Linked DNA regions of Homo sapiens: region 2 is linked to region 1. A link means that fine-mapping ties the variant in region 1 to the expression of a gene that starts in the linked region. Tissue or cell type: whole blood. Region 1 holds a variant in brackets; the other region holds the start of a gene. All regions are shown on one strand. Distances are between the middles of the regions.

The links. PIP is the estimated chance that this variant, and not a neighbour inherited with it, causes the effect.
Region 2: MYDGF starts here. The variant in region 1 is fine-mapped to the expression of MYDGF in whole blood (TOPMed, PIP above 0.99).

The regions. Positions count from the first base shown.
Region 1 is chr19:5,376,120-5,378,876 of GRCh38, reverse strand. No RefSeq gene overlaps it. Among named protein-coding and RNA genes, the nearest start is that of PTPRS, 37 kb to the right of the region's middle. The variant C/G (reference allele first, on the strand shown) is at 1,388.
Region 2 is chr19:4,668,976-4,671,603 of GRCh38, reverse strand. MYDGF (myeloid derived growth factor) reads left to right here and starts at 1,262. Exons shown (of 6, transcript NM_019107.4): 1 at 1,262-1,443. The coding sequence starts at 1,270. RefSeq lists a silencer at 873-1,262.

The sequences.
Region 1 (2,757 bases):
AGCCATCATCCTCAGCAAACTAACACCGGAACAGAAAACCAAACACTGCATGTTCTCACTTATAAGTGGAAGCTGAAAAATGAGAACACATGGACACAGGGAGGGGAGCAACACACCCTGAGGCCTGTTGGGGGAATCGGGGGAGGGAGAGCATCAGGATAAATAGTTAATGCATGCAGGGCTTAATACCTAGATGATGGGTTGATAGGTGCAGCAAACCACCATGGCACACATTTACCTATGTAACAAACCTGCACATATATCCTGGAACTTAAAATAAAATTTAAAAAATACCTGGGCCACGCACAGTGGTTCACGCCTATAATCCCAGCACTTTGGGAGGCCGAGGCGGGTGGATCACCTGAGGTCAGGAGTTAGAGACCAGTCTGGCCAACATGATGAAACCCCATCACTACTAAAAATACAAAAAATTACCTGGGAGTGGTGATGGGCTCCTGTAACCCCAGCTACTCGGGAGGCTGAGGCAGGAGAATCGCTTGAACCCAGGAGCTGGAGGTTGCAGTGAGCTGAGATGGCACCACCGCACTCCAGCCTGGGCAACAAGAGCAAAACTCCGTCTCAAAAATAATAATAATAATAATAATAATAATAAATTAAAAAGAAATCTGAAGAGATCAAGTTCTGTGCTTTTGCCACCCAATAGTCCCCACGCCTGGGACAGCTTAGAGGAATTCCCACAGATATCATAGGAGCAGTTTGGCTAAGTGCATCTTTTTTGCTGAGCACTTGTTTTAAAAAAAGATCAATAAAAATAGTATCAGTAAACAAACTCCTAATCTTTGTCCCTGGAAGAGATGGCAGAGCACAGCTGAGCCAGAGGGGAGGTGGCACCAAGGGCACAAGTTCTGGCTCTGCATCCAGTTCATCGGGCGACCTGCGGGTGACACTGGACATCTCTGGGCCTCTGAGGGCACTCCTAGCTAAGAGTTTTGCAGCTGCAGTGACTCTGGGGATTCATGAGCTTGTGGTGCTGGTGGTGCTGGGGACATGCCACTGCCCTGCAGGTGAGCCACTCATGGTGGAGGGAGGTGAGGTGGAATGTGTATAACCTCATCCTCTTCCTCCTTCTGTGGTCTCCACCAGGTCCAGCCCCCATCACTGCCCACCTGGACTCGTGCAGTTGCCTCAGTCCTGATTCCCCGGCTCCTACCCTTACCTGCCGCAGTCTGTCCTCCCCATTGCAGCCACCAGAGGGTGCCTGTGAGCACCTGAGTCAGGGCCTGTCCCTCCTCTGCCCGCAGCCCCCCATGGTTCCCACCTTCCTCAGGGTCAAAGCCCAAGTCCCTTTTTTTTTTTTTTTGACATGGAGTCTCGCTCTGTCACCCAGGCTGGAGTGCAGTGGTACAGTCTCGGCTCACTGCAACCT[C/G]CGCCTCCTGGGTTCAAGCGATTCTCCTGCCTCAGCCTCAGGAGTAGCTGGGACTATAGGTGCCTGCCACCACACCTGGCTCATTTTTGTATTTTTAGTAGAGACAGAGTTTCACCATGTTGGTCAGGCTGATCTTGAACTCCTGATCTCAAGAGATCCACCCACCTTGGCCTCCCAAGGTACTAGAATTACAGGCGTGAACCACCGTGCCCGGCCCCAAGTCCTTTTTGCAACCCACAAGGCCCTGCATGACCTGTCCTCCTGCCCCTTCCCTGCCCTCCCCTTCTCCCTCTCTCCCCTTCCTCACTCTGCTCCAGCCACACAGGCCTCTTCACTGTTCCTCCAATGCCCCAGGCACTGTCCTGCCTCAGGGCCTTTGCACAGACTGTTCCCTCTACTTGGAACACCCTTCCTCCACATGTTCTCACAGCTGGCTCCTTCTGATCATTCAGGTCTCATCTCAAATGTCACCTCCTCAGACAGGCCCTCCCGGACCACCCCAGCTAAAACTGCATCCCTCCAACCTATCACTTTTTTCCACCTCACCCAGTTTCACTTCTGTTCATCAGTTATCACTGTCTGAAATGATCATTTTTGGCGGGGTGCAGTGGCTCATGCCTGTAATCCCAGTACTTTGGGAGGCCAAGGTGGGCGAATCACTTGAGATCAGGAGTTCAAGACCAGCCTGGCCAATGTGGTGAAACCCCATCTCTACTAAAAACACAAAAATTAGCTGGGCGTAGTTGTGCACGCCTGTAGTCCCAGCTACTCAGGAGGCTGAGGCAGGAGAATCGCTTGAACCTGGAAGGTGGAGGTTGCAGTGAACCAAGACTGCGCCACTGCCCTCTAGCCTGGGCGACAGAGTGAGATTCCATCTCAACAACAACAACAACAATGAAATGATCGATTTATTTTGCTTACTTGCAAATTCTGTCTCTCTCCAGCTTCCATGAGTTCCAGAAGTACAGGAAATATTGTCTCTCTTGATCTCTGCTGAGTCTTCAGTGTCTAGAACGGGGCCATGCACACAACGGTTGTTGAGTGAATAAATGAACAAATGAGGACAGAGAGAGTAGGAGTGCAGACATGGGCATCAAAGAACTGGTGATTCTGCCCAGGTGCAGTGACTCTTGCCTGACATCCCAACATTTTGGGAGGCCGAGGTGGGAGGATTGCTTGGGCCCAGGAGTTCGAGATCAGCCTGGGCAACATAGTAAGACCTTGTCCCTATAAAAAATTAGCCAGGCCCGAGCTGGGCGTGGTGGCTCACGCCTGTAATCCCAGCACTTTGGGAGGCCGAGGCAGGCATATCACGAGGTCAGGAGATTGAGACCATCCTGGCTAACATGGTGAAACCCTATTTCTACTAA
Region 2 (2,628 bases), 710 kb after region 1:
TGATTTAATTCCTCAAAGGGTGAATTATAACCCATCTTAGGAGTCATCTATGACGTTTTCTCTCTGGATTCTGTTTTTTGCCAGTTGGGAAGGACTAGAAACACCAGCTTAATTATTGACCCCCCAGGCCTGGCCACTGGTGTTTTCTTGAAATGTTAAGCCATTTGTAACCAAAGAATGACTTCCTTCTCTAGTTGAAAACCTGGGATCTAATGATAGCAATAGCTACAATATATAATTCTCAGTTCATTCGTCCCGGTGTGGGAACTTAATTCCCTCACTTACTCCTCCCAACAACTCCTTGAGGTAGGGATTATTTTCTTTTTAACTTTTTATTTTGAAATAATTTTTGCCTCCCAGAAAATCTGCAGAAACTGTAGGGTTTCCTAATACGCTTCATCCAACTCCCCCTAATGTGAACATCGTCTGTAACCCCTAGGACAAGCCAGGTTATCAAAGCCAGGAAGTGAACACCCACATAATCCTATTAACAAATACACAGACTGATCGAGCGTGATGACTCACACCTGTAATCCCAGCACTTTGGAAGGCCGAGGCAGGCGGATCACTTGGGGTCAGGAGCTCAAGACCAGCCTGGCCAACATGGTGAAAACCTGTCTCTACTAAAAATACAAAAATTAGCCAGGGGTGGTGGTGAACACCTGTAGTCCCAGCTACTCGGGAGGCTGAGGCAGGTGCATCACTTGAACCTGGGAGGCGGAGAGTGCAGTGAGCCGAGATCGCGCCACTGCCCTCCAGCCTGGGCAACAAGAGGGAAACAAAAGCAAGCATCCTGCTTCTCATCCTACTTTCCCTCTGCTAATTTTGAATATCGATGCACACACATCTTGGCTGCAACGATTATGAGAAGTTCGCCTAATGGTGACCTTCGATTTCCCTCACTCCCTGTACATCTCCTAACTGAAAGAGCTGCAGTCAGTCACACGGCTGGTGAGGGACCCTGAGACCCCAAAACGAACTCCATTACCACCTGAGGGACCCTCCAAGGATCGCCGGGCTACGCAGGGTCCCTAGGGTACGAGGCCGCCCCCTCGGCGGCCCCGCCCCCTCGGCGGCCCCGCCCCCTCGGCAAAAGTCCCGCCCCCTCGACAAAGTCCCGCCCCCAAGATGGTGGCCCCGGGCGGTGGACAGGGCGGGGCGTGCCGGGTCACGTGGACAGCCGACGCCGACGTGGCCTCCGGCGGACGCTCCACGTGTCCCTCGCCGCGCCCCGTCTACCCGCCCCTGCCCTGAGGACCCTAGTCCAACATGGCGGCGCCCAGCGGAGGGTGGAACGGCGTCGGCGCGAGCTTGTGGGCCGCGCTGCTCCTAGGGGCCGTGGCGCTGAGGCCGGCGGAGGCGGTGTCCGAGCCCACGACGGTGGCGTTTGACGTGCGGCCCGGCGGCGTCGTGCATTCCTTCTCCCATAACGTGGGCCCGGGGGTACGTGCCACCGCCGTCCCGGATATTTGAGTGCTGGCAGGCCCGGGGAGGGGGCGCGGAGCATTGGGGGCGGGGCCCGAGGAGGGGGCGCGGACCGCGGAGGTGGGTACTGAAGAAGGGGTGCGGATTGTTAGGGTCGGAGGCTGAGTGGGGGGCGCGGGACCGTGAGGCCGGGGTCATCACTGGGGCAGGACTGAACTCATAGGGAGCGGGGCCTTGTGGGCCCCGGCGGCGTTGAGGGGGCGTGATCACCTGTCACCTGTCGCCTGCCTGGAGTGTCCAGGCACCCCTGCCCTCCAGACGCAGAGGTGGGGAGGGGTCAGTGATGGGAGCGGCAGGAGGCTAAAGGGCATCTGCCCTCCTGGGCCTGAAGGAAATCAGTCGCTGCAGCTCCGAAGAGGGAGGAAGTGCTCCTTCCTTCCATTGCACAAGGTCCCCCCTCACCGAGGGTGTGAGGCCGGGCCCTCAGCCCTGTACTCAGCTTGTCGGCAAAGTCCTTTCCCCTCTCAGCCTCCCTTTCCCCGCCTGTAATAACAGTATCTTTACTGTTTTTTGACTATTTCTTTTTAGACTTGCGTGCAGTGGCGGGATCTCGGCTCACTGCATCCTTAGCCTTCTGGGTTCAAGCAATTCTTCTGCCTCAGCCTCCCCAGTACCTGGGATTACAGACGTGTGCCACCACACCCGGATAATTGTTGTTGTTGTTGTTTGAGATGGAGCCTCACTCTGTCGCCCAGGCTGGAGTGCAGTGGCGCGATCTTGGCTCACTGCAACCTCTGCCTCCCAGGTTCATGCCATTCTCCTGCCGCAGCCTCCCAAGTAGCTGGGACTACTAATCTTTGTATTTTTAGTACAGATGGGATTTCACCATGTTAGCCAGGCTGGTCTTGAACTCCTGACCGCAGGTGACCCGCCCACCTCGGCCTCCCAAAGTGATGGGATTACAGGCGTGAGCCACTGTGCCAGGCCAGTTTGTTGACTACTTCCTTATAGTTAGGTGTGATGCCAAGTCCTTTATATGTTAGGCCCAAGTTACAGATGAGAAAATGCTTCACATAAAAAAGAGAAACAGAGAGAAACTAGAGGCTCAGAAAAGTTTTCACTTGTCCAGGTCCCATGGCAAAACCCATCTCTACAAAAATACGAAAAATTAGCCAGGTGTGGTAGCAGGTGCCTGTAATCCCA